Regions from separate parts of the Homo sapiens genome. Here all the other regions are linked to region 1. The links come from fine-mapping of genetic effects on gene expression. A gene starts in region 1. Each other region holds a variant in brackets. All regions are shown on one strand. Distances are between the middles of the regions. Region 1 holds the start of CCDC134 (coiled-coil domain containing 134). Region 2 overlaps MEI1 (meiotic double-stranded break formation protein 1). Region 3 holds the start of LOC107985567 (protein LLP homolog). Region 4 overlaps MEI1 (meiotic double-stranded break formation protein 1).

The links. PIP is the estimated chance that this variant, and not a neighbour inherited with it, causes the effect.
Region 2: its variant is the best candidate, but not a certain one, in a credible set for the expression of CCDC134 in monocytes after LPS (Fairfax 2014, PIP 0.52).
Region 3: its variant is the best candidate, but not a certain one, in a credible set for the expression of CCDC134 in whole blood (INTERVAL, PIP 0.59).
Region 4: its variant is the best candidate, but not a certain one, in a credible set for the expression of CCDC134 in whole blood (INTERVAL, PIP 0.67).

The regions. Positions count from the first base shown.
Region 1 is chr22:41,797,509-41,805,154 of GRCh38, reverse strand. It overlaps CCDC134 (coiled-coil domain containing 134), which reads right to left and starts at 4,476. Exons shown (of 7, transcript NM_024821.5): 1 at 4,389-4,476. It overlaps MEI1 (meiotic double-stranded break formation protein 1), which reads right to left. Exons shown (of 31, transcript NM_152513.4): 31 at 5,701-5,901. The coding sequence ends at 5,856. RefSeq lists silencers at 4,454-4,513, 5,104-5,193 and enhancers at 4,664-4,743, 4,814-4,893, 4,669-5,655.
Region 2 is chr22:41,756,580-41,764,225 of GRCh38, reverse strand. It overlaps MEI1 (meiotic double-stranded break formation protein 1), which reads right to left. Exons shown (of 31, transcript NM_152513.4): 18 at 5,693-5,861; 19 at 905-1,052. Among named protein-coding and RNA genes, the nearest start is that of CCDC134, 40 kb to the left of the region's middle. The variant AC/C (reference allele first, on the strand shown) is at 2,906.
Region 3 is chr22:41,673,138-41,679,026 of GRCh38, reverse strand. SNU13 (small nuclear ribonucleoprotein 13) reads left to right here. Exons shown (of 3, transcript NM_001003796.2): 3 at 3,832-5,094. The coding sequence ends at 4,094. It overlaps LOC107985567 (protein LLP homolog), which reads left to right and starts at 1,867. Exons shown (of 1, transcript XM_047441692.1): 1 at 1,867-3,825. The coding sequence starts at 1,902. The coding sequence ends at 2,285. The variant G/A (reference allele first, on the strand shown) is at 4,238.
Region 4 is chr22:41,731,635-41,739,280 of GRCh38, reverse strand. It overlaps MEI1 (meiotic double-stranded break formation protein 1), which reads right to left. Exons shown (of 31, transcript NM_152513.4): 10 at 6,937-7,036; 11 at 6,678-6,812. Among named protein-coding and RNA genes, the nearest start is that of MEI1, 36 kb to the right of the region's middle. The variant AG/G (reference allele first, on the strand shown) is at 3,026.

The sequences.
Region 1 (7,646 bases):
TGGTCTATTCATGAGTATTCTTACGGCAATGTGGTTATTTGCAAAAGTCCAGTAAGACTTTGCTCTCTCTCTTTTTTTTTTATTTTGAGACAGAGTCTCACTCTGTTGCTCAGGCTGGAGTGCAGTGGCACGATCTCAGATCTTGCAACCTCCACCTCCCAGGTTCAAGTGATTCTTGCGCCTCAGCCTCCCCAGTAACTGGGATCACAGGCGAGCACTACCATGTCTGACTAATTTTTGTATTTTTAGTAGAGACAGCGTTTCACCATGTTGGCCAGGCTGGTCTCGAACTCCTGGCCTTAAGCGATCTGCCCACTTTGGGCTCCCAATGTACTGAGATTACAGGCGTGAGCCACTGTGCCCAGCCTGTTCTCTCTTATAACAGAATACAACAAATATTGCTTATATTACCAGGGCTTTAACTAGAATATCATACTTGAGAATGTACATAGAAAGCCTGCCTTCAAAGATTCCCAGCCTTACAGTGAATGAGTAAAATCTGTCACTTCCTGGCAGGCCCAGGAACCTTAAGACTGTTAAGTAAAATCTAAAGTCTGCCTTGGTTTTGCTTCCTAGCCTTAAATGGTTTTTAAATCTGTTATTCCTATGTGATCACTGTAAAGAGAAAATTTTGTTTCTAAAAAAAGCTATAGTACATCTGTTATTAGACTGCAGCCCTGTGCATTGTTTTTGAGTTCTCATTATCTACTTGTATACTGGACTAGCTCCTGAATTCTAGATTCCTCCAATCTAACTTTCTTTCATGAAATTATTAAAAATTGGCACTGCTCTGTTCCTGAAGCCCTGTAAGTTGAAACTAGATGAACTTTAAGGTACAAGCCTTGTGCCTAATGTATGGGTCACACAGGAAGTTCACCAAACATCCCAATGCCATAACCAGAGACATTCAAACTGCAAACCAGGATAAGAAGTTGATGGTTTCATACTGTAGATAGCTTTTCCGAAGACACTGGAACAAGATTCCATATCATTTTGAGACTCTTACTCGTTTCTTTTTTTTTGAGTAGGAGTCTGGCTCTGTCGTCCAGGCTGGAGTGCAGTGGTGCAATCTCGGCTCAATGAAAGCTCCACCTTCCAGGTTCACGCCATTTTCCTGCCTCAGCCTCCCGAGTAACTAGGACTACAGGTGCCCGCCACCACGCCCGGGTAATTTTTTTTGTATTTTTTGTAGAGACGGGGTTTCACCATGTTAGCCAGGATGGTCTCCATCTCCTGCCCTCGTGATCCGCCCGTCTCAGCCTCCCAAAGTGCTGGGATTACAGGCGTGAGCCACCACGGTGGGCCTCTCAGAACTATTATGCAAACTGAGATTATCACATTGCTATTACTTCCTATTTTCCTATTTATTTATTTTACATTATTTTTGGAGACAGAGTCTCACTCTGTAGCCCGAGCTGGAGTGCAGTGGCACCATCTTGGCTCACTGTAACCTCTGCCTCCCGGGTTCAAGTGATTCTCCTGCCTCAGCCTCCCGAGTAGCTGGGATTACAGGTGTGCATCACCATGCCTGGCTAATTTTTGTATTTTTTGTAGAGACGAGGTTTCATGATCTTGGCCAGGCTGGTCTCGAACTCCTGGGTTCAAGCAATCTGGCCATCTTGGCCTCCCAAAGTGCCAGGATTACAGGGGTGAGCTATCGTGCCCAGCCCTATTTTCTTTTTAAACTTTATACCTATTACTTTTTAAATTTTTGTTGAAGTATCACTCCTGACAGAATAATGCTGGCCCAGAAGTTTGCAATGACAGCAAATGCCTATGGAACAGCCAAAATTGAACTTAACAATGAACTCCAGGTAGACATACCTTGAGAGCCACTCCTTCCAAACCTCCCTTGCTGCTCAAATGTGGCTAAAAGGTATTTGGGGTTTTTTGAGGCAGGGTCTCGCTCTGTCACCCACGCTGGAGTGCAGCGGTACAATCATAGCTCCCTATAACCTGAAACTCCTGGGCTTAAGTGATCCTCTACCCAACTGACTCCCGCACACTCCCCAACCAATGCCCAGATAACTTTTTTTTTTTGAGACGGAGTTTCGCTCTTGTTGCCCAGGCTGGAGTGCAATGGTGCGATCTCGGCTCACCGCAACCTCCACTTCCCAGGTTCAAGCGATTCTCCTGCCTCAGCCTCCCTAGTAGCTGGGATTACAGGCATGTGCCACCACGCCCGGCTAATTTTTGTATTTTATTTTATTTATTTTTTATTTTTTTATTTTTTATTTTTTTGAGACAGAGTCTTGCTCTGTCGCCCAGGCTGGAGTGCAGTGGTGCGATCTCGGTTCACTGCAAGCTCTGCCTCCTGGGTTCACGCCATTCTCCTGCCTCAGCCTCCCAAGTAGCTGGGACTACAGGCACCTGCCACCACGCCCGGCTAATTTTTTGTATTTTTAGTTGAGATGGGGTTTCACCGTGTTAGCCAGGATGGTCTCGATCTCCTCACCTCATGATCCGCCTGCCTCGGCCTCCCAAAGCGCTGGGATTACAGGTGTGAGCCACCGCGCCCGGATGTTATTTATATATATTTTTGTATTTTAGTAGAGACGGGTTTCTTCATGTTGGTCAGGCTGGTCTCGAACTCTCAACCTCAGGTGATCCGCCCGCCTTGGCGGTTGCCCAGGCTGGTCTTGAACTTCTGGACTCAAGTGATACTCCCTCCTTGACCTCCCAAAGTACTGGGATTACAGACGTGAGCCCCTGCTCCCAACCACTACAAGGGTTTTGACACTGACTCCTAGTCACCAGTCTCCAACTGGAGACTCCTAGTCTCCAACATGGCAAGAGACCAACAACCCAAGATAGGTCCGTCCCAGCACTGAGGGACCTAACTACAGGATGACTGATCAGTAAAGTTTTTGGAGAAAGATCTTGACCAAAAGGGGGAAATATGAAAGTTGTTAGAATCAAAACAGAGTCGTTTGTGTTAAAAACTCTGACAAATTTAAAGCATGATTCTCCAATGGGAAAAAACAAGAACAACAACTCTGACAAATAAAACCGAGGAAGGTTGTGAAAAGAGGGTTCTTATGCACAAATGACTGATAACAAGATCACAAAAAATGCAAAAACCACAACCCTGCACAAAGGCCACTGCAAACTTACACAGAAAAATCTTTCTGTGAGGACATCTGCCCTGCAACTGCCTGTCCAACCTCAGACTAGCACCACTCTTGCTATTCATCCTTGTAGCCAAGGATAACTATCTCAAAATAATCATGTAATCCTCATTTTTCCTTTTCAAAACCTTTGTCTTCCTTTACCTCCCCAAATACGTACACAGGTTACTATGGCACACATATTGTCACTACAATGTCTATTCCCAAGTAAACATCATTTTTTTAGAGTCTCTCACTCTGCTATTTAGGTTGACAGTACCTACCACACTCTAGGCACTGTTCTAGAGGCGGGAATACAGCAATAAATAAGCAAAAATCTCTGCACTCATGGTACTTGTCTCTAGTAGGGATAAGAGTTGATCAATAAACTTGTAAAATAAGCACAGAGGGATGAGAGGGTGTCGGTCAGGTACAAGATTACATAAAGTGGTCAGGAGAGGTCTCACACTCAGATTACAACTCCCCAATGTTACCAATGTGAAATCAAGGCACAGAAAAATGAGGTGACTGCCCAAAGTCACACAGCTATTCCCAGGCTGAACCAAGTGTCTGTTTGGCTCTAAGTCCAGTGCTCTGTCTTCTGACTCTTTGTAAATGAGCACAGGCTACCTGAGATCAGAGCTGGCTACTGAACTACCAGGACACCTGCCCCAGGGGAGAGATGCTCAGTTACAGACAGTGAGGGGCTGCAGAGATCATCCGGAGAACCCCCTACCCCCAAGCAGACGAGATAAGTGAAACCTAGAGAAGGAATAGTCCAAGTTCACCCAGGACCCTCCACATTCCACCTCCTGCTCCAAACTCAAGGGAACCAGAACCAGGCTAGGGCAAAACTTTAGGGGCCAAGGAGAATACCAGACAGCTGGCAATGACTGAAGCAGGTAGTGGGAAAGAAAAGCCAGAACAGCAGCCTGCGGGACAGGTCCTGCTTTCTCTACTGTTAAACTCACTTTTTCAGCCTCTCAATCCCGATCCTGCCGTATGCGTCACCCGGAGCTCCTCCTGGCTCAGCATGAGGCTCTGAACTCCTGCAGAGGTACCAGGTAGTGGCGGGCCTTGAGCCAGCTACCGGGGTCGGGGGCCCAGGTGGTTGACCCCGAGCCTTCGGAGCTCCCGGAGGAGGGAGCGAGCCTTCTCAAGGAACAGAGGCGTCCAGGTCCACGAAACTCCCTCCCCACCACCTGCAGCCGGTTCGAGGCCCTCGGTTCTCTCATTATCCTTCCCGGGAACCTGCAGCCCGCGGCCCCTACAGCCACCTACCTGGCCAGTCGGTGCAGGAAGGGCAGGTGGCCGAGTCCTGTGCGAGCAGCTAGGCTCGAAGGTCCAACAGGCTAACAGCAAAGCAACTGAAAGCGGGAGCAAACGGCTAGCAACCGAGCGCAGACCGCCGAGCTCCGTCCCGCCCACCGCGCTGCTCCCGGCCAATGAGCGCGAGCCGCCACTGCGGGGCTCCGCTAGCCTCACTTCCGGCCCCGCTCCACCGCCCCTGCCTGCCCCTCCAGGCTCTGGCGTGCCTCCAGCGCGCTGTGGGCACCATCCTCGTCCTGTCCCTCCTGCGGGCCCTGGGTACGTGGCCCTGGATTTAGCTTGTGTTGGAGGAAGTTAAATCTGTGGGTGGGGTCTGTGCCCAATTTAAGGCGTGAATCAGCAAACTGGGGTCCCAGCTCCTGTCGGCCGGGCGACCTTCTGCGCGCCCTCCCTGAAACTGTGTCGTCGTCTGTGGCCGAGTTTTTAAACTTTAGATCGCAACGTGAGTTTAGTGGGCGGTGACTAGCACTTTTGTTCTTCTTTAAGGACCTCAGAGACTCAGTGCAGGATTCGGGCATCCCCTCCTTGCCCCTCCGGTCCACCAACTAATAAGCCAAGTGCGGCGGGGGCTTCCTCGTCCGTTCGTTAGGCCGAGTGCAGCCCCACTTTTGCGCAGGATCAGGACAGTCAGACCCGAGAAGGCAGCGTGGCGTGGCCATCTCCGGGCCCGGGGCCCCTGCCGGGCGGGAAGGGAGCTGGAGGCCCGGTCTGGGCTGAGCTCCCCAGAACAGGCGCAGGGCAGGCACTGTCGAGCGCAGACCTCATGCCGGGGACCAAGCTGGACATGCATTCCCAGGATCTACCCACGAGGGTGCATAAACACCAGTTCTGATGACGGCTGTACGGGAAGGGACAGAGGTGACCTACTTTAGCCAGACAAGGGCTGAGGCTGGGACAGTTTCGTTCTGATAGGAAAGCTGAGAATTTGACCCTCCTTGCCTGGAAAGTTTACCTCTATCCACCTCCACGTGAGGCGAGGGAGCAGGTCAAGTGCCTCTGGGAGCTGTTGAATCGCAGCAGCCCCAACCCCTAGGCCTTTCTCTGCCCTGCCAGCCCCAGGATGGCCTGACTGGTGTTCTCTGAGTACAGCTGAGGCACCCAGCTGACTCCTTGAATGCTGTTACAAGAACAAATCCTGTCCCGTCCCTCCTTCCCTGAGGAGGCCATCAGTCTCCTTGCTGAAACAATCCCTTATCCAACTGGCTGAGAAACCAGCTCCTGGTAGACAAGGTAGTACAGTGTTTTTGGAGAGCTCGCGCAGGTATGTGAGTGTATCATTTTATTTCCTTATTCTATTTCAACAATAGAGTATATGGCTCCATATGAATAGCTTCAGCTGTCATCCATTTCCCCAACAATTATGCCCTTTGTCTCCAGGTCTCATTCTCTCTCCACTTCTGGGCCTTCAAGTCCTGAGGATCAGTTTCTGATGTGGGACAGGGATACAGCCACCCCTCCCAGGCAGCTGGCAGCAAAACATGAGAGGAAAACAGCAGAGAAGTGGGGCCAACCATGGGGGCATCACACTTCCAGAGCCCAAAACAGTCAAGAATGGTCAGGCAAGAACAGAAGTGCTCCTGAGAATAGTGGGATGGATTCTGAAATTGGGTCCTGAACACCTGGGCTAGGTAGTTGCTATTCAACAGGGAACTATTGCACGGAAGGGGCAAGGAAGAGAGCCAGGGAGGCAGCCAGAGGGGTGCAGAGGAAGCAAACTACCCTCACACACACCTCTGGACTGCAGTATCTCTGGACTGCAGTGTCTCTGGGTGCAACCAGCCACCTACCAGAGGGTCTCTGACCACTGCCACAGCCCCAAGCTTGCTTTTTTTTTTTTTTTTTGAGACATAGTCTCACTCTGCCACCCAGGCTGGAGTGTGCAGTGGCACAATCTCGGCTCTCTGGTCACTGCAATCTCCACCTCCCAGGTTCAAGTGATTGTCCTGCCTCATCCTCCCAAGTAGCTTGGATTACAGGCATGCACCACCATGCCCGGCTAATTTTTGTATTTTTAGTAGAGATGGGGTTTTACCATGTAGGCCAGGCTCGTCTCAGAACTCCTGACCTCAAGTGATCCACTCACCTTGGCTGGGATTACAGTGTGAGCCACTGCGCCCGGCCCCCAAGCTTTCTTTTTTTTTGAGACGGAGTCTTGGTCTGTTGCCCAGGCTGGAGTACAGTGGCGCGATCTTGGCTCACTGCAGCCTCTGCCTCCCAGGTTCCAGTGATTCTCCTGCCTCAGCCTCCTGGGTAGCTGGGATTACAGGCTCATGCTACCACGCCCAGCTAATTTTTGTATTTTTTAGTAGAGATGGGGTTTCACCATGTTGGCCAGGCTGGTCTCAAACTCCTGAGCTCAGGTGATCTGCCCACCTTGGCCTCCCAAAGTGCTGGGATTACAGGCGTGAGCCACTGCACCCGGCCATCCAAGCTTTCTTAAGAACATGGAAGTCACACAGACACACACACATTGTGTGTGTGTGTGTGTGTGTGCACCTGGCCATCCAAGCTTTCTTAAGAACATGGCAGTCACAGAGACACACACTATGTGTGTGTGTGTGTGTGTGTGTGTGTGTGTGTGTGTGTGTGTGTGTGTGTGTGTTGGGCTGAGGATCACTTGAACCAACTGCGCTTGGACAACTGTCTCCAAAGCTCATGGGGGAAGGACTAGCTCCTTTCTGAGTTCGGTGATGTAGCTTTGGAGACAGGCAAATCTGAGGTCAAATCCTGATTGTATCACTAGCTCTGTGATTCTGGGCACGACTGAATGTCTCTGGCCTCAGTTTCGTTATTTGGAAAGGGAGTAGGAATAATAACAGACACCAATATAACATTCACACCAAGCCAGGAGCTGTTTTTGGTGCTTTACATATATTAACTCATTTAAGTCCTTGCTACAACCCTAGGAGGTAGGTACAGGTTGAGTATCCCTTATCCAAAATTCTTGGGACCAGAAGTGTTTTGTATTTCAGATTTTTTTTCGAATTTTGTAATATTTGCCTATAATAATGAGATATGTTGGGGATGGGACCCAAGTCTAAACACAAAATTCATTTGTTTTATATACACCTTGTACACATAGCCAGAAGGTAATTTTTTATTTTTTTGAGACGGAGTCTTGCTCTGTCGCCCTGGCTGGAGTGCAGTGGTGCAATCTTAGCTGACTGCAACCTCTGCCGCCCAAGTTCAAGCAGTTCTCCTGTCTCAACC
Region 2 (7,646 bases), 41 kb after region 1:
CACTTTGGGAGGCCGAGGCGGGCAGATCACGAGGTCAGGAGATTGAGACCATCCTGGCTAACAGGATGAAACCCCGTCTCTACTAAAAATACAAAAAATTAGCCGGGTGTGGTGGCGGGCGCCAGTAGTCCCAGCTATTCAGGAGGCTGAGGCAGGAGAATGGCGTGAACCCAGGAGGTGGAGGTTGTGGTCAGCAGCGATCCTGCCACAGCGATCCTGCCACTGCACTCCAGCCTGGGTGACAGAGCGAGACTCCGTCTCAAAAAAAAAAAAAAAAAAAAAGGAAACTTCCCCTCATTAACTATTCAGTTACTCTGAAGGGTTAGATTAGATTACATAGGAAACATAGGTTAAGTGCTTGATTCTTTTCCTGTGGTTACCAGTTTTCAAAAACATGAGTTTGTTGCATAGCATCCTCCAAAGGTGACCAAAGAGTTGTTGTTTTTTTTTAATTTTTAATATTTTGTAGAGACAAGGTCTTACTATGTTGCCCAGGCTGGTCTTGAACTCCTGGCTGAGGCAGGAGAATCGCTTGAACCCAGAAGGTGGAGGTTGCAGTGAGCCGAAATCACACCATTGCACTCCCGAACTCAAGTGATCCGCCCACCTCAGCCTCCCAAAGTGCTGGGATTATAGACGTGAGCCACCGTGCCCAGCCTCAGTCCCGATTTTCTTATCTGTAGAATGCAAATAATCTCTTCCTCCCAGGAAGGCTGAGATAATTAGGTAAATTATACAGGCTCTGTATGAGTCTGCATCCTACTCCTCTCCACACTCCTAACACCTCCGCTTTGTCTCTCTCTACCACCCGCTTGTCTATACACTATCATCATCATGGTCTCCCAGGGAACACTAATGTAAAGAGGTACAGAAGGACAAGGAGCCCAGGCATTGTGGTCCATACCTCACGTAGTGTATTGTCTTTGTCCTGGCAGATTGCAAGCAGATAGATGGAGGCTTTGAAGACCACCAGTGGGGGGCGCTCGCCCTGGTCCTGCAGCGACAGGAGGAAGCTTTGCACAGCCTCAAATAACTCTGCCTCTGAGACAAACCTGTCAACCAAGAAAAGCCTGAGTGAGAAAGGCAGAGTTGGCAGGCCACTGGGCTCTTCTATTCTGCCTGGCCGCATCCTTCCTCAGCCCACTGTCCTGCCCCAATATGCCCACAGCCTAATGACATCTTAGACAAACAGTGTGCTATACATACTTACAAAGCACTGCCATATATATACATCACATTGTTCTGTGCCTTGTGCAAGGCTCAGTTAGGGGCCAAATACTCCTCATTCACACTTGGGAGGTGAGCTATCTGCCAGCTGGACCAGCAGTGTTAAAGAGAAGGGTGCTACTGCTGGGGTTCAGAAGGCCCTGCTCTGGCAGCTGCTCCACCCCTCTCTTCTTGTATTTATCATTAAACAGTGGTGTATTTAACAGATATAACACCAAAAGCATAAATGACAAAAGAAAAAAATGGATAAATTAGAGGTCATCAAAATTAAAAACATTTGTGCTTAAAAGATACCACTAAGAAAGTGAAAACGGCCAGGTGTGATGGCTCATGCCTAGAGTCCCAGCACTCTGGGAGGCTGTGGTGGGAGAACTGCTTGAGGCCAGGAGTTCGAGACCAGCCTAGGCAACATAGTCAGACCTCTTCTCTACAAAAAAAAAAAAAAAAATCAGTTAAATTAGCTGGTTGTGTAGACGCATGCCTATAGTCCCAGCTACATGGGAGGCTGAGATGGGAGGATCGCTGGAGCCCAGGAGGTTGAGGCTGCAGCGAGCCATGATTGTGCTACTGCAATTCAGCCTGGGTAAGAGAGCAAGATACAAAAGGAAAGGAGAGGAAGGGGGAAGGGGAAGGTAAGGAAAAAGGGAGGGTAGAGTAGGGGAGGGGAAGTAAGAGGAAGGGAGGTGAAGGGAGGGGAGGGAAAAGAGGAAAGGACAGGATAGGACAGGACAGGAATGGAAAGGAAAGGAAGAAAGAAAGAAAAGAAAGCGAAAAGACAGCAAACAGGAGGCCAGGTGCAGTGGCTCACGCCTGTAATGGTAGCATTTGAGGAGGCCAAGGTGAGAGGATTGAGAATATACCCAAAAAGAATTAAAAACACTACTCAAACAAATACATGTACACACATGTTTACAACAGCACTATTCACAATAGCCAAAAGGTGGATAGGCCCAAATGTCCACCAATAGGTGAATAAAAGCAAATTATGGTGTATACATACAAAGGTATATTAATCAGCCATAAAAGGAATGAAGTACTGATACACGGTACAAACATTATGCTCACTGGATGGACTTCTAAAATGATATGCTAAGTGGAAGAAGCCAGACACAAAAAGTCACACACTGTATGATTCCATCTATGTGAAATATTCAGAATAGGTAACTCCAAAGAGACAGAACAGATTGTTGATTGCCAGGAGCTGGGGAGGAGGAACGGAAGTGACAGCTTTGCAGTGATGGAAATGTTCTAGAACTAGATGAAGGTGGTGGTTGTGCATTTTAAAGGTACTATTAAATACCACTGAATTGTTCACTTTAAAATGGTCAAGCTTATGTTGTGTAAATTTTACCTTAATAATTTTTTTTTTCTTTTAAGACTGAGTCGGCCGGGCGCAGTGGCTCACGCCTGTAATCCCAGCACTTTGGGAGGCCGAGGCGGGCAGATCACGAGGTCAGGAGATCCAGACCATCCTGGCTAACACAGTGAAACTCCGTCTATACTAAAAATACAAAAAATTAGCCGGGCGTGGTAGCGGGCACCTGAATTTCCAGCTACTCAGGAGGCTGAGGCAGGAGAATGGCGTGAACCCGGGAGGCAGAGCTTGCAGTGAGCCGAGATTGGGCCACTGCACTCCAGCCTGGGCGACAGAGTGAGTCTCCGTCTCAAAAAAAAAAAA[AC/C]AAAAAAAAAACACTGAGTCTCACTCTGTCGCCCAAGCTGGAGTGCAATGGCACAATATCAGCTCATTGCAACCTCTGCCTTCCAAGTTCAAGTGATTCTCCTGCCTCAGCCTCCCCAGTAGCTGGGATTACAGACGCTCGCCACCACACTCAGCTAATTTTGTATTTTTAGTAGAGACTGGGTTTCACCATGTTGGTCATGTTGGTCTTGAACTCCTGAACTCAGGTGATCCACCTACCTCAGCCTTCCAAAGTGCTGAGATTACAGGTGTAAGCCACCGCACCCGTGAGGGAAGAGACAGACCCTCTCATATTGTTTTATATTGTTTTCTACTCAGTACCTGTTTTAAGAAAAAAAACAAAGAAGTGAAATCAAAGCCAGGCAGCCCGGCGCCAGGCCCAAAACCAGGCCTGGGCCTGCCTGGCTTAAACCTAGCGGTTAAAAATCAACTCATGACTTAGAACCCGATGTTACACATATATTTCAGGCATTGTATGGAAGAACACTGTGAAACTCCCTGCTCTGTTCTGTTTCACTCTGACCGCCGGTGCATGCAGCCCCTGCCACGTACCCCTTGCTTGCTCAAATCAATCACGACCCTTTCATGTGAAATCTTTAGTGCTGTGAGCCCTTGAAAGGGACAGAAATTGTGCACTTGGAGAGCTCAGATTTTAAGGCAGTAGCTTGCCAATGCTCCCAGCTGAATAAAGCCCTTCCTTCTACAATTCGGTGTCTGAGAGGTTCTGTCTACGGCTCGTCCTACTACACCCAGCCAATAAATTATTATTATTAATTAATTATTTATTTTTTGAGACAGAGTATCACTCCGTCACCGAGGCTGGAGTGCAGTGGCACGATCTCAGCTCACTGCAACCTCCGCCTCCCGGGTTCAAGCAATTCTCCTGTCTAAGCCTCCCCAGTAGCTGGGACTACAGGCGCCTGCCACCACGCCCGGATGATTTTTGTATTTTCATTTTTATTTTTTTTATTCTTTTTTTTATTTTTTTTTGAGACAGAGTCTCTCTCTGTCGCCCAGGCTGGAGTGCAGTGGCGCGATCTCAGCTCACTGCAAGCTCTGCCTCCCAGGTTCACGCCATTCTCCTGCCTCAGCCTCCCGAGTAGCTGGGACTACAGGCACCCACCACCACGCCCGGCTAATTTTTTTGTATTTTTAGTAGAGACGGGGTTTCACCGTGTTAGCCATGATGGTCTCGATCTCCTGACCTCGTAATCCACCCATCTCGGCCTCCCAAAGAGCTGGGATTACAGGAGTGAGCCACTGCACCCGGCCTGATTTTTGTATTTTTAGTAGAGATGGGGTTTCACCTTGTTGGTCAGGCTGGTCTCAAACTCCTGACCTCAGGTGATCCACCCGCCTCGGCCTCCCAAAGTGCTGGGATTACAGATGTGAGCCACCGTACCCGGCCCAATAAATTATTTCTTACGGCTTAAGAAAGAACAGTCCTTTTATTTTTATATCCTTTTTGAGATGGAGTCTCACTCACTCTGACACCCAGGCTGGAGTGCAGTGGCATGAGCTTGGCTCACTCCAACCTCCACCTCCTGGGTTCAAGCAATTCTCCTGTCTCAGCCTCCCGAGTAGCTGGGACTACAGGCGCCTGCCACCATGCCCGGCTGATTTTTGTATTTTTATTTTTATTTATTTATTTATTTATTTATTTATTTTTTGAGACGGAGTCTCGCTCTGTCGCCCAGGCTGGAGTGCAGTGGCACGATCTCGGCTCACTGAGAGCTCTGCCTCCCGGGTTCACACCATTCTCCTGCCTCAGCCTCCCGAGTAGCTGGGACTACAGGCACCCACCACCATGCCCAGCTAATTTTTTTGTATTTTTAGTAGAGACGGGGTTTTACCTTGTTAGCCATGATGGTCTCGATCTCCTGACCTCGTGATCTGCCCATCTCGGCCTCCCAAAGAGCTGGGATTACAGGAGTAAGCCACCGCGCCCGGCCTGATTTTTGTATTTTTAGTAGAGACAGGGTTTCACCTTGTTGGTCAGGCTGGTCTCAAACTCCTGACCTCAGGTGATCCACCCGCCTCGGCCTCCCAAAGTGCTGGGATTACAGGTGTGAGCCACTGCACCCGGCCCAACAAATTATTTCTTACAGCTTAAGAAAGAACAGCCCTTTTATTTTTATTTTTATATCCTTTTTGAAATGGAGTCTCACTCACTCTGTCACCCAGGCTGGAGTGCAGTGGCACAATCTTGGCTCACTGCAACCTCTGTCTCCTGGGTTCAAGCAATTCTCCTGTCTCAGCCTCCAGAGTAGCTGGGATTACAGGTGTGCAACACCATGCCCGGCTAATTTTTGTATGTTTTGTGGAGACAGGGTTTCGCCATGTTGGCCAGGCTGGTCTCGAACTCCTGACCTCAACTGATCAGCCCACCTTGGCCTCCCAAAGCATTGGGATTACAGGCGTGAGCCACCATGCCCAGCCATGATTTTAAAAATGTAATAAATTGAACAGTAATGATTAAAACCAAAGTAACCTACTGAAGTTTTTTTCTGTGGACAAACAACACCCTCAAGGATAGCAAGGAATACTCACTGGCTTTCTAGGCCTCTGTCTCTCAGCACAGTGTCTACCCACCTGTTCTAACCCACTTCTAAGATATGAGCCTCTCAGGGACACAACCCATTTCTTACTTATCCCCGTGTCCCCAGTGCCCAGCATCAGGCTTGGAGAGATGCCCTTATTTATTGAACTGAACTGCTGATGAAGGTCCCAAGACCCACCACCAGCCACCCACCTCTGTGCACTGACCTGTCTTCATGGATGTAGGCCAAGTAGAAGAGGAGCAGGATGCAGTACTGTCTCTGGCGAGCAGCTCCCTCCATGTACTGGCGATCAGACAGGAAGGCAAGGCTTTCAGGGCTCCTGCTGCTTATCTGGGGCAGCCCATGCTGCAGGAGCTCAGACACTGCAGAGAGTTCTAGGGAGGGAATAAGTAGAGGAAAGCCACACAGAGAACATAGAAGAACAGGTAATCAGCACATTAGTACCTACTACATGCAGAGTACTGCACAGGGCAGCAAGGGTAAATGCAGTATAGTGGGAAATAAGGAAATCAGAGGCTCCTCTTCCTTTGAGCAAGGTTCAACCTACCGGGAAAGACTAAACTTCACAAGCAGAAGGACATGGATATGTCTCAAAAATTAACGTTCATTCCTTTTTTGTTTTGTTTTTCTTTTGACAGAGTCTCGCTCTGTTGCCCATGCTGGAGTGCAATGGCATGATCTCGGCTCACTGCAACCTCCCCGTTCTGGGTTCAAGCAATTCTCCTGCCTCAGCCTCCCAAGTAGCTGTGATTACAGGCACCCACCACCACGCCCAGCTAATTTTTTGTATTTTTAGTAGAGGCAGGGTTTTGCCATGTTGGCCAGGCTGGTCTCAAACTCCTGACCTCAGGTGATTCACCCACCTTGGCCTCCCAAAAACATTCATTCTTTCATTCATTTGACATATGTTCATTGAGTGGCTACTACTCAGGACAGGCTGTGAGACCCAGGCCCTACCTCCAGGAACTGGCAGCTGATGGGAAGAGACACATAATGAGACAGGCAATTGCAGGACATGTGATCAGCGCTATATTGAGGAGGGAGTGACTCAGGCTGCCTGGCATGGGGAAGGAAAGGTCAAAGAGGAAGAAACTGTGGGCCAGGCTGTAATCCCAGCACTTTGGGAGGCTGAGGAGGGTATATCACCTGAGGTCAGGAGTTCAAGACCAGCTTGGCCAACATAGTGAAACCCCGTCCCTACAAAAATACAAAAATTAGCCGGCTATGATGGCGGGCGCCTGTAATCCCAGCTACTTGGGAGGCTGAGGTGGGAGAATCGCTTGAACCTGGGAGGCAGAGGTTGCAGTGAGCTGAGATGGCACCATTGCACTCCAGCCTGAATGACAAGCGCGAAACTCCATCTCAGAAAAAAGAAAGCAAGCTTTGGGAGGCCGAGGCTGGCGGATCACGAGGTCACGAGATCAAGACCATCCTGGCTAACACGGTGAAAACCCGTCTCTACTAAAAATACAAAAAAATAGCCAGGCGAGGTGGCGGGCCCCTGTAGTCCCAGCTACTTGGGAGGCTGAGGCAGGAGAATGGCGTGAACCCAGAAGGCGGAGCCTGCAGTGAGCCGAGATCATGTCACTGCACTCCAGCATGGGCGACAGAGCGAGACTCCGTCTCAAAAAAAGAAAGAAAGAAAGAAACAAACTGTGGAGGGTGAGGAGAAAAGAGGCAGCGACAGGAGAAAAGAGAAAAGGAAGCAAGGTGTTCAGAGGCCTGAAGGCATGAGAAGACATGCCATGTTTCCATTCAGTGTCACTGGATAGTCAGTGAATAGATGTGGGGTGTCAGAAGCTGGGGAACTATGTGATGTAATCTGCAGTTGGACTGTGAAAGACCTTTAAGCAAATGCCACTTAAGGAATTGGGACTTCATCCTGAGGGCAGAGACTTCTAGATTTCTTACGAAAACGGTTTCATAAAAGAAAGAATATTTTAATACCAAAAGAACAGGAAAGAAGGATAGGCGTGGTGGCTCAAGCCGGTAATGCCAGCACTTTGGGAAACCAAGGCAGGTGGATCACCTGAGGTCAGGAGTTCGAGACCAGCCTGGCCAACATGGCAAAACCCTGTCTCTATTAAAAATACAAAAATTAGACAAGCGTGGTGGCAAGTGCCTGTAGTCCTAGCTACTCAGGAAGCTGACGCAGGAGA
Region 3 (5,889 bases), 130 kb after region 1:
CTTGGCCTCCCAAAGTGTTAGGATAACAGCAGGCGTGAGCTACCATGCCCAGCCAGAATACTCTCATTTTAATAGATGCTGGGTAGTTTGATGTGGTAGAGCTCTTTTGTCGTTGAAGATTTTTAATGGAAACATCAGAGATTTTGTCAACTGTGTTTGAGATTTAGGAGAACTATTACAATCGCTTTTACCTGTGTTGCTGAAGGAAGATAAAGTAGACTCTGTGGGTCTCGTCGTAGTGCTCTTTCCTCCCTGCTCGTCACACTGCAGTAACTGCAGTGCCTGGTATAGCAGTGGCCAGTGGGGCATTGTAGGGTGACCCACCAGCTCTCCTGGGAGGTCTCTCTTCTCACTTGATGCACTCAGGTCAGCTTGGCTGGGCAGGGATGTGACTTCTTACACTTCAGGTAGATGAGGACTCATGGACACAGAGCAACCTTATTTCCTCTTGCCATACTTTGCACGGTGATAAGCACACAGGTCCTTGAATGGAGATGCTCAGTCTCAGCGACTTAATTCAGAATATGCTTACTGGGAGTTCAGGGAGGGAGATGCAACAATTTTCCGTACTTCTGCCTCAGTGTCAGGTATTCTTTCTTGCCATATTTATTGATTGCCTGCTATGTGCCAGGCGCATGTATATATGCTGATGATGCACTGGTGAACAAAATGAAGTCTCTGCCTTCTTGGAGTATACATTCCAGTGGAGAAAGACATAGGTTTTATGCCTGGTGGTAAAGAATGCTGTAAGAGGCCGGGCGCGGTGGCTCACACCTGTAATCCCAGCACTTTGGGAGGCCGAGGTGGGCAGATCATGAGGTCAGGAGATCGAGACCATCCTGGCTAACACGGTGAAACCTCATCTCTACCAAAAATACAAAAAATTAGCCGGGCGTGGTGGCGGGCGCCTATAGTCCCAGCTGCTCAGGAGGCTGAGGCAGGAAAATGGTGTGAACCCGGGAGGCGGAGCTTGCAGTGAGCCGAGATCTCACCACTGCACTCTAGCCTGGGCGACAGAGTGAGACTCCGTCTCAAAAAAAAAAAAAAGAATGCTGTAAAACAGAATAAAGTAGAGAAGGGGGATAGGAATGGCAGTGGTGGGTCTTTTTAGATGGAGTATTCAGAGAAGGTCTGTCTGAGGAGTTTGAGCAGAGAACTGAATAGATGAGGGTGTTGGAAAGAAACGTTTTTGGGCATGGTGTAAAGGCATGCTTGAGGGATTCTAAGGAGGCTGGTGTGTGGCTGGAACTAAGTGTGGGGATGAGAGGTACTAGGAGATCACATGAGACCATGTAGGCCACTGTTAGCAGTGAGTACAATGGTAAATGAGTAGAAGGATTTTGAACAGCAAGATTGCTATGATCTTACTTAACACTTATAAAAGAGTCACTCCTATGACTTTTGTAGGGTGAGTAAGCTATAGTAATATCAATAGAAATGAACATGCTTTGCATTTGCCATGTGTCAGGTATTATTATTATTATTTATTTTACTTTTTTTTGAGATAGGGTCTTACTCTGCAGCCCAGGCTGGAGTGCATTGGCATTGATCATGGCTCACTGCAGCCACGACCTCCTGGGCTTAGGTGATCCTCCCACCTCAGCGTCCCAGGTAGCTGGAACTACAGGTGTACGCCACCACACCTGGCTAATTTTTTATATTTTTAGTAGAGATGGGGTTTTGCCATGTTGCCCAGGCTGGTCTCAAACTCTGAGTTCAAACAATCTACCTGCCTCAGCCTCCCAGTGGGCTGGGATTACAGGTGTGAGCCACCATGCCCAGCCTCATCATTCTTATTAACTGGTTTAATCCTTTCAATAATCCTATTAAGTAGAATTATTAGGTAATTAGAATTAGGTTAAAAAGAGCTGAGGTGTGGGTGTTCGTTTCTCAGGTGAAACATGGCTAAAAGCTTACGGAGTAAGTGGAAAAGAAAGATGCGTGCTGAAAAGAGAAAAAAGAATGCCCCAAAGGAGGCCAGCAGGCTTAAAAGTATTCTCAAACTAGACGGTGATGTTTTAATGAAAGATGTTCAAGAGATAGCAACTGTGGTGGTACCCAAACATTGCCAAGAGAAAATGCAATGTGAGGTAAAAGATGAAAAAGATGACATGAAAAGGGAGACTGATACTAAGAGAAACAAAAAGACTCTTCTAGACCAGCATGGACAGTACCCAATATGGATGAACCAAAGGCAAAGAAAAAGGCTGACGGCAAAGCGAGAGAAAAGAAAGGGGAAAAGCAAAGCAAAAGCAGTGAAAGTGGCAAAGGGTTTGGCGTGGTAGACTCTTAAAACCTTGGAAAATGCCACATGGGATAGATGATGGATTAGAATGTATATACATGTATACTTTGATTTCAGCTGCCACCAAATGAAAACCATTTGTTTTCCTATTTTAACTTGGCCTTTTTTCTTCAATTCAAACCCAGCATAACTCCTGAAGTTTGTTTTGGGAACTTGAATAAAATATTTTCTTTGATACAAAAAAAAAAAAGAATTAGGTTAAAAAGAATTAGGTAATTCTTTTTTTATTAGGTAGAATCCTGTTAGGTAGAATTATTTTATAGATGATAAAAGTAAGGGAAGTTAAACACCTTGCTCAAGGTCATTTGTGTAACAAGAATGAGTGCCAGCATTTGCACTCAGACAGTGTAGCTCTAGAGTGTGTGCCCTTCTCAAGTACTCCAGCATGAATGCAGAGTATTCGCACTGAGCCACAGAGGCAAGCAGTCAGGAGAGTACGCATCTGAAACGGTGCTGTGGGGTGTTGAACTTGCATGGTGAGTCGCATGTGGGATCAGCTTTCTAGAAGTATTGATTATGGCAGATTGAGATGGTAAAACTCTGACTCTCAGTCACAGATACCTTGAGAAATACTATATTATTAATATACTACTACTTGCTGGTGGGGGTTTGTGGAAGCTGTTGCAGTTGACAAGGTAAGAGATGATGGTGACTTGGACGAGTATAGCAGAGGAGTAGAAAGAAGTGGTCAGGGCCAGGCGTGGTGGCTCATGCCTGTAATCACAGCACTTTGGGAGGCCAAGGTGGGTGGATCACAAGGTTAGGAGTTTGAGACCAGCCTGGCCAACATAGTGAAACAAAAAATTAGCTGGGCATGGTGGCAGGCACCTGTAATCCCAGCTACTTGGGAGGCTGAGGCAGGAGAATCACTTGAACCTGGGAGGCAGAGGTTGCAATGAGCCAAGATTGCGCCATTGCACTCCAGCCCGGGCGACAGTGTGAGACTCCATCTCAAAAAAAGAAAAAAAAAAAAAAAAGAAAGAAAAAAGTTGTCAGATTAGGACAGGCACAGTGGCTCATACCTGTAATTTCAGCACTTTGGGAGGCCGAGGTGGGTGGATCACTTGAGGTCAGGAGTTTGAGACCAGCCTGGACAACATGGTGAAGCCCTCTCTCTACTAAAAATACAAAAATTAGCTAAACACAGTGGCACGTGCCTGTAATCCCAGCTGCTTGGGAGACTGAGGCAGGAGAATCACTTAAACCCGGGAAGCGGAGGTTGAAGTGAGCCAAGATCGCACCACTGCACTCCAGCTGTGTGACAGAGCAAGACTCCATCTCAAAAAAAAAAAAGAAGAAGAAGAAGTGGTCAGATTCAGGACGTGTTTTGAGGATAAGTGGTGGATTTAATGTAGGGCTTGAGAAAATGCCATTGTGTATGACTGACTGGTGTTTGAATCCTTTATCATATCCCAGGGCCGGTCTAGGACACATAATTGTGTGTGCCTAGGCATTCTTCCCAGTTTGTTGTGGCTGCCCTGCCCAAGCCCACATCACCTATTAGCTTCACGTCCTTCTCTCCGCAGCCACCAAAACCCTCAACAGGGGCATCTCTGAGTTCATCGTGATGGCTGCAGACGCCGAGCCACTGGAGATCATTCTGCACCTGCCGCTGCTGTGTGAAGACAAGAATGTGCCCTACGTGTTTGTGCGCTCCAAGCAGGCCCTGGGGAGAGCCTGTGGGGTCTCCAGGCCTGTCATCGCCTGTTCTGTCACCATCAAAGAAGGCTCGCAGCTGAAACAGCAGATCCAATCCATTCAGCAGTCCATTGAAAGGCTCTTAGTCTAAACCTGTGGCCTCTGCCACGTGCTCCCTGCCAGCTTCCCCCCTGAGGTTGTGTATCATATTATCTGTGTTAGCATGTAGTATTTTCAGCTACTCTCTATTGTTATAAAATGTAGTACTAAATCTGGTTTCTGGATTTTTGTGTT[G/A]TTTTTGTTCTGTTTTACAGGGTTGCTATCCCCCTTCCTTTCCTCCCTCCCTCTGCCATCCTTCATCCTTTTATCCTCCCTTTTTGGAACAAGTGTTCAGAGCAGACAGAAGCAGGGTGGTGGCACCGTTGAAAGGCAGAAAGAGCCAGGAGAAAGCTGATGGAGCCAGGACAGAGATCTGGTTCCAGCTTTCAGCCACTAGCTTCCTGTTGTGTGCGGGGTGTGGTGGAATTAAACAGCATTCATTGTGTGTCCCTGTGCCTGGCACACAGAATCATTCATACGTGTTCAAGTGATCAAGGGGTTTCATTTGCTCTTGGGGGATTAGGTATCATTTGGGGAGGAAGCATGTGTTCTGTGAGGTTGTTCGGCTATGTCCAAGTGTCGTTTACTAATGTACCCCTGCTGTTTGCTTTTGGTAATGTGATGTTGATGTTCTCCCCCTACCCACAACCATGCCCTTGAGGGTAGCAGGGCAGCAGCATACCAAAGAGATGTGCTGCAGGACTCCGGAGGCAGCCTGGGTGGGTGAGCCATGGGGCAGTTGACCTGGGTCTTGAAAGAGTCGGGAGTGACAAGCTCAGAGAGCATGAACTGATGCTGGCATGAAGGATTCCAGGAAGATCATGGAGACCTGGCTGGTAGCTGTAACAGAGATGGTGGAGTCCAAGGAAACAGCCTGTCTCTGGTGAATGGGACTTTCTTTGGTGGACACTTGGCACCAGCTCTGAGAGCCCTTCCCCTGTGTCCTGCCACCATGTGGGTCAGATGTACTCTCTGTCACATGAGGAGAGTGCTAGTTCATGTGTTCTCCATTCTTGTGAGCATCCTAATAAATCTGTTCCATTTTGATGACAGAATGGCAGTGCCTGATTCTTAGTAAGTATCCGGCTAAAATTGGAATGAAGACATACTTAGCTTTACTAGAGTGGTGATAGCTGCTTAAGACTTTTTTTTTCTTCTTTGTGAAAGAGTTTCACTCTTGTTGCCTAGGCTGGAGTGCAATGGCACGATCTCGGCTCACTGCAGCCTCTGCCTCCTGGGTTCAAGTGATGCTCCTGCCTCAGCCCCCAAAGTAGCTGGGATTACAGGCGTGCGTCACCACGCCCAGCTAATTTTGTATTTTTAGTAGAGACAGGGTTTCACCATGTTGGCCAGGCTGGTCTTGAACTCCTGACCTCAGGTAATCTGCCTGTCTCAGCCTCGCAAAGCGCTGGGATTACAGGTGTGAGCCACCACGCCTGGCCACTTGCTTAGACTTTTTTTTACCAGAAGGCTATGGAAGAGCTGTCTCCTCCTACCAGGTAGTTTCTACCTTGGCAGTTCAAAATGTCGTCTTATACACACTCAACTGGAGCATTGCTATCACTGGAACTGGCTTTCTCAACCTCCGTGCTGTTGACATTTGGGGCTGGTTAATTTGTTGTGAGGACTGCCCTGTGTGTTGTATGTTTAGTAGCATCACTGGCTTCTACCCGCTAGGTGGCAATAGCAGCACCCCCCCACAACCAAAAAATGTTTCCGGACATTGTTAAATGCCCCCGGCAGTAAAATCACCCCCAATTGAGAATCACTGTTGGAGAATCAGGGTTTCTAGTAACCCTTGGCACATGCAGGATTGGTATTGGTGACTAAAGCCACTGCCCCCTCAC
Region 4 (7,646 bases), 66 kb after region 1:
AAGGACATGTAGAGAAGACAAAAAATGTGAGCTAATTAAATATTGATCTTTCTAACTGGCAAGTCAATGAATAATGTCTTAAATTTAAGACGGGAATTACAGGCACTCGCCACCACGCCCAGCTAATTTTTTTTTTTTTTGTATTTTTAGTAGAGACAGGGTTTTGCCATGTTGGCCAGGCTGGTCTTGAACTCCTGACCTCAGGTGATGCACCTGCCTCGGCCTCCCAAAGTGCTGGAATTACAGGCGTGAGCCACCATGCCCAGCCTATTCCTTTTCATGATAAATCCTCTATAATTTATTTATTTATTTTCAAGAGAGGATCTCACTCTGTCACCCAGGCTGGAGTGCAGCGGTGTGATCATAGCTCACTGTAACCTCAAACTCCCAGGCTCAAGTGATCCTCCCGCCTTACCTCCCAAGTAGTTGGGACCATAGGTGCATGCCACCACACCCAGCTAATTTTATTTATTTATTTTATTACTTATTTATTTATTTATTTTTTTTTTTGAGACAGAGTCTTGCTCTGTCACCAAGCTGTAGTGCAGTGGCGTGATCTTGGCTTACTGCAACCTCCAACTCCCTGGTTCAAGTGACTCTCCTGCCTCAGCCTCGCAAGTAACTGGGATTACAGGTATGTGCCACCACGCCCAGCTAATTTTTGTATTTTGGTGTTTTGTTTTGTTTTGTTTTTGAGACAGAGTCTCGCTCTGTTGCCCAGGCTGAAGTGCAGTGGCATGATCTCGGCTCACTGCAACCTCCGCCTCCCAGGTTCAAGCGATTCTCCTGCCTCAGCCTCCTGTGTAGCTGGAATTACAGGCACCCGCCACTGTGCTCAGCTAATTTTTATATTTTTAGTAGAAACGGGGATGAACCACGTTGGTCAGGCTGTTCTCGAACTCCTGACCTCGTGATCCGCCCGCCTCGGCCTCCCAAAGTGCTGGGATTACAGGCATGAGCCACCACACCCAGCCTAATTTTTGTATTTTTAGTAAAGATGGGGTTTCACCATGTTGGCCAGGATGGTCTCAATCTCCTGACATTGTGATCCACCCACCTCGGACTCCCAAAGTGCTGGGATTACAGGCATGAGCCACTGTGCCTGGCCTATTTTATTTTATATTGTTTTGTAGGGATGGGGTGGCGCTATGTTGTCCAGGCTAGTCTCAAACGCTTAGCCTCAAGCGATCCTCCTACCTTGACTTCCCAAAGTGCTGGGATTACAGGCGTGAGCCACCGTGCCCAGCCAATATTTTGTTTTGTATTATTTGAATACATTACTGTGTTAGAAAATTAAAAGAGAAAATATGGTAACAAAATAAAAGTTACTCTATAAATATGGGTTTCCTCGGTTATTATTATTATTTTTTAAGATTTCAAGCACCTTGCTAAGGAATAATTTCCCATTGTGGTGCTAGGATCCCTTAGTCTCACTGTCCATTTTAACATCCTACATTCGCATATTGACTACCTATGAGGAGCCAGAGACAGAGCAGTGAAAAAACTGACAAGGTCCTTTAGCTCCTGGAGCTTATATTTTAGTGGGGGGAGGCGGGGTACAAAACAAATGAATAGGCCAGGTTCAGTGGCTCACGCCTGTAATTCCAGCTATTTGGGAGGCTGAGGCAGAAAAATTGCTTGAACCCAGAAGGCAGAGGTTTCAGTTAGCTAAGATCGCATGACTGCACTCCAGCCTGGGTGACGGAGTGAGACTCTGACCCCTCACCCCCCAGAAAAAAAGAGGCCGGGCGCGGTGGCTCACGCCTGTAATCCCAGCACTTTGGAAGGCCGAGGCAGGCAGATCATGAGGTCAGGAGATCGAGATCATCCTGGCTAACACACTGAAACCCCTTCTCTACTAAAAATATTTTTAAAAATTAGCTGGGCGTGGTGGTGGGCGCCTGTAGTCCCAGCTACTCAGGAGACTGAGGCAGGAGAATGGCGTGAATCCAGGAGGCGGAGCTTGCAGTGAGCCGAGATCGCGCCACTGCACTCCAGCCTGGGCGACAGAGCAAGACTCCGTCTCAAAAAAAAAAAAGAATAAACAATAACTTTCAAATGTTTGATAGGTGCTATAGCAGTCTGATAAGGTCAATTAGGAAAGGAAATTCTGAATGAGACTTGAATGATAAGAAAAACGCAGTCACACAATGATTTAAGGGAATATTATTTTGGGCAGAGTTGGAATAATTAGTGGCAGGAATAAGTTTGATGTGTTCAAGAAACAGAAAGCAGATCAGAGGAATGAACAAGAAGTGACTGAGTACTGTTTGTGGAGCCAGGGACCCAAATCTAATTCTTTAGATCCCAAATTGGGTGTTTTTCTCTATATGCTAGTAGCATGGACAAATTGAGATTGAAGGTTCTGGAATAAAGCACCAGGCAGTTGGAAATGTGGTCTGGAGTTCAGGAAAACACTATAGTGGGCTGAATGGTGGTACCCAAAGATGTCAGGTCCTAATCCCAGGAACCTATGTTATTTTCTACAGTAAAGTTTTCACAGAGAATCCTGAGATAAAGCCATTATCCTGGATTATTCAGGTGGTCCCCTACATCCCATCATAAGTAGCCTTATGAGAGAGAGGCAGCCAGGCATAATGACTCATGCCTGTAATCCCAGTACTTTGAGAGGTCAAAGTGGGAGGATCACTTGAAGCCTGAAGCTCAAGACCAGCCTGGGGAATATAGCAAGATCCCTATCTCTACAAAAAATAAAAAAAAATTTTTTGGCCAGGCGCGGTAGCTCACGCCTGTAATCCCAGCCCTTTGAGAGGCAGAGGCACGCAGATCACAAGGTCAGGAGATCGAGACCATCCTGGCTAACACGGTGAAACCCTGTCTCTACTAAAAATACAAAAACAAAATTAGCCAGGGATGGTGGCAGGCACCTGTAGTCCCAGCCACTCGGGAGGCTGAGGCGGGAGAATGGCGTGAACCCGGGAGGCACAACTTGCAGTGAGCTGAGATCACGCCACTGCACTCCAGCGTGGGAGACAAAGCAAGACTCCGTTTCAAAAAAAAAAAA[AG/G]AAAAAGAAAAAAGAAAAAAATTTAAGAAAAGAAAGAGAAAAGGCAGAGGGAGATTATACACATAGAGAAGAGAAGACAATGTAGTCACAGAGGCAGTGATTACAGTGATATGACCTTAAGTCATGGAATGCCCGGAGCCACCAGAAGCTGGAAGAGGCAGGGAAGTGTTCCGTATTAGAAGCTCCAAAGGGAGTGTGGCCCTGCTGACACCTTGATTTCATTTCAGTGATACTGATTTTGGACTTCTGGCCCCCTAGAACCATGAGAAGGTAAATACCTGTTGTTTTCAAGTTTGTGGTAATCTGGTCCTGTAGCAATAGGAAACTAACACAGGCATTTTAGGCAAGAACTATAGATTTGAGCATTATCAACATATAGCTAGTAGCTGAAGCTCTGTGAGTGGCTGAGAGCATTCAAAGAGGAACTACAGTAAGAGAACCAGGGCTAGAGGCTGGAGTTCATAGGTGTTAAAGAGCTGCCAGCTTCTGATTAAAGGTGATGGAGTCAACAGATACAGTTACCTCTGCTACTCCTTACCAAAATGAAAGAGAATTTTCTTTCAAGATATAAATTCAAAACAACAGAGAAAATACAAAAGACATGATAACATAACACTTTGGAAGTATAATTTGGCCCTCTGTATTGTGGATTCTACATCTATGGATTCAATCAACTGTGGACCAAAAATATTTTTTAAAATCTATAAAAAAAATAACAATATGGCTGGGCACGGTGGCTCACGCCTGTAATCCCAGCACTTTGGAAGGCCAAGGTGGGGGATCACCTGAGGTCGGCAGTTCGAGACCAGCCCGCCCAACATGGAGAAACCCCGTCTCTACTAAAAATACAAAATTAGCCGGGTGTAGTGGTGCATGCCTGTAATCCCAGCTACTCGGGAGGCTGTGGCAGGAGGAGAATCACTTGAACCCGGGAGGCAGAGGTTGTGGTGAGCCGAGATCATGCCTTTGCACTCCAGCCTGGGCAACAAGAGCAAAACTCCATCTCAAAAAAAAAAAAAAAAAAAAACACTTTGGGAGGCCGAAGCGGGCGGATCACGAGGTCAGGAGATCGAGACCATCCTGGCTAACACAGTGAAACCCCGTCTCTACTAAAAATACAAAAAAATTAGCCAGGTGTGGTGGCGCGCGCCTGTAGTCCCAGCTACTAGAAAGGCTGAGGCAGGAGAATGGCGTGAACCTGGGAGGCGGAGGTTGCAGTGAGCCAAGATCACGCCACTGCACCCCAGCCTGGGTGAAAGAGGGAGACTCCATCTCAAAAAAAAGAAAAAAATACAATAAAAAAATATATAAAATGTAGGCCAGGTGCAAGTGGCTCATACCTGTAATCCTAACACTTTGGGAAGCCGACACAGGTGGATCACCTGAGGTCAGGAGTTCGAGACCACCCTGGCCAACGTGGCGAAACCCCATCTCTACTAAAAATACAAAATTAGCTGGGCATGGTGGCACGCACCTGTAGTCCCAGCTACTCGGGAGGCTGAGGCAGGAGAATTGCTTGAGCCTGGGAGGCAGCAGTTGCAATGAGCCAAGATCACACCATTGCACTCCAGCCTGGGCGACAGAGCGAAACTTCATCTCAAAAAAAATTTTAAATACAGCATGACAACTATTTACATTCCATTGTTTGTTTGTTTGTTTTTGAGATGGAGTCTCACTCTGTGGCCTCAGTCTGGAGTACAGTGGCAAGATCTCAGATCACTGCAACCTCCGCCTCCCAGGCTCAGATAATTCTCCTTCCTCAGCCTCCTGAGTAACTGGGATTACAGGCAAGCGCCATCATGCCCAACTAATTTTTGTATTTTTAGTAGAGACAGGGTTTCACCATCTTGGCCAGGCTGGTCTTGAACTCCTGACTTCAGGTAATTGGCCCGCCTCAGCCTCCCAAAGTGCTGGGATTATAGGCGTGAGCCACCGCGCCCCGTCTACATTGCATTGACATTGCATAGTCGTCCCTCAGTATCTGTGGGGAATTGGTTCCAGGACCCCTGAAGATACCAAAACCAGGATGCTCAAGCTCCTTACATAAAATGGTATAGTATTTGCATATAACCTATGCACATCCTCCAGCATACTTTATTTATTTTATTTTATTTTATTTTATTTTTTGAGACAGAATTTCACTCTGTTACCCAGGCTGGAGTATAATGGTGTGATCTCCACTCACTGCAACCTCCGCCTCCCAGGTTCAAGCAATTGTCCTATCTCAGCCTCCTGAGTAGCTGGGATTACAGGTGTGTGACACCACATCCGGCTAATTTTTTATATTTTTAGTAAAGACAGGGTTTCTACATGTTGGCCAGGCTGGTCTCAAACTCCCGACTTCAGGTGGTCCGCCGACCTTGGCCTCCCAAAGTGCTGGGATTATAGGCATGAGCCACCGCACGTGGTCCTCCAGTATACTTTAAATCATCTCTAGATTACATATAATACCTAATACAATGCAAATGCTATATAAATAGTTATTATACTGTTTGGGTGTTTTGTTTTGTTTTGTTTTTGAGACAGAGCCTTGCTCTGTCACCCAGGCTGGAGTGCAGTGGCGCAATCTTGGCTTACTACAACCTCTGCAGCAATTCTCGTGCCTCAGCCTCCTGAGTAGCTGGGACTACAGGCATGCGCCATCATGCCCAGTTAAGTTTTTGTAGAGATGGGATTTTACTACATTGGCCAGGCTGGTCTCGAACTCCTGACTCAAGTGATCCACCTGCCTTGGTCTCCCAAAGTGCTGGGTTTACAGGGATAAGCCACTGTGCCTGGCCTGGTTTCTTTTTTTCTTTTTTCTTTTGAGACAAGGTCTCACTCTGTCACCCAGGCTGGAGTGCAGTGGTGTGATCTCAGCTCACCGCAACCTCTGCTTCCCAGGTTCAAGCAATCCTCCCACCTCAGCCTTCAAGCAGCCGGAACTATAGGTGTGCACCAACATGCCTGGCTAATTTTTGGATTTTTAGTAGAGACAGGTTCTGTTGTGTTGCCCAGGCTGGTCTTGAACTCCTGGGCTCAGGTGATCCAACCCACCTTGGCCTCCCAAAGTGCTGGGATTACAGGTGTGAGCCACCATGTCCAACGTATACTGTATTGTTTAGGGAATAATAACAAGAAAAAAAGTCTGTACGTGTTCAATACAGACACAACCATCCATTCTTTAAAATTTTCAGCTGGATGCGGTGGCTCACGCCTGTAATCCCAGCACTTTGGGAGGTTGAGACAGGTGAATCACCTGAGGTCAGGCGTTCGAGACCAGCCTGGCCAACATGGTGAAACCTCGCCTCTAATAATAATACAAAAATTAGCTGGGCATGGTGGTACACACCTGTAATCCCAGCTACTTGGGAGGCTGAGGCAGGAGAATCACTTGAACCCAGGAGGCAGAGATTGTAGTGAGCTGAGATCACACCATTGCACTCCAGCCTAGGCAACAAGAACAAAACTCCATCTCCAAAAAAAAAAAAAAAAAAAATTTTTCAATCCATGGTTGGTTGAATCCATGGATGTGGAATCCACAATTATGAAGGGCCAACTATATTAGGTATTATAAGTAATCTAGGGATACTTAAATATCCGCTACCCTGGCCTCAACAGGCCCTTAGGTATATGCAGGGATGGAAAGTTCAGCCTGCCTGGGTCTCTCACCTCAGAAAAGCAGAAGTGGCCTTCAAGGCCTCAGCAGCCACCTCCAGCACAGGGCTGCTAACTGCTTCTTGGAGGGCACGGCCAGCATCTCTGCACATGGCTGAGCTTGTGAACAGCTTGATCTCCTCTGGCTGCCTGAGAAATGGAAGATGAGAAACGAGTAGGTGAACTCTTCTCACTGACCCCACCAGGAGTGAAAGCCCACTTTTCCTTCTGCAGTCTGGCCCCTACAAGCCTCATGTTCCACCACTTTGCTCACCGGGTCAGGATTTCAGCGAAAAGCAGCAGGCCCTGCTTGTGCAGCTCTATGTTGTTCATCTTCAGGCTTCCCTGCAGGCTCCTCACCACTGCCTCGATCCCTACCACAGGATGACATGACAGAGGCCAGGGATCAGTGCTCTCTTGTTCCTTCACTGCCCACCCAGAAGAGGTGACAGGCTCTGGACAGCATGTATGAGTTGGAGGCCACTCGTGGAGGGACCCTGACAAGATTGAGCTAATGGGACCAGACTGTGAGATCTTTGAGGCCGGGCCCTCATCTGATTCATCTCCCCAACACCCAGTACAAGCCATAGCACAGTCCCTGGCACTTGAGGTTTTCAGTGAACACCTACTGACCAAGCCATATTTTCTCCACTTGGCATACTCCTGTTCCTCCTTGGAGAATCAGGTCAAAACCCCACTCCTCCAAAAAGCCTTCCCTGATCCATTCAGAGCTGTGAACCTCCCCTGAGCCCCCACAGCTCCTGTGCTTCCCTCTAGCAGAGCTCTAATCAGCTCATAATGAAATTTCCCTTTGCATCTCTCTCCCTTTTCTGAGGGCAAGAACCAATGTTATTTGTTATCTCTAAATCTCCAGGTCCCAGCCTGGTGCCTGGCATAAACTAGGAATATAAAATGAATGACTGAATGTGCCTACTCTAAAAATCTAGATGTGGTATAATAAGTCCCAGACAGTGCACTCACGCC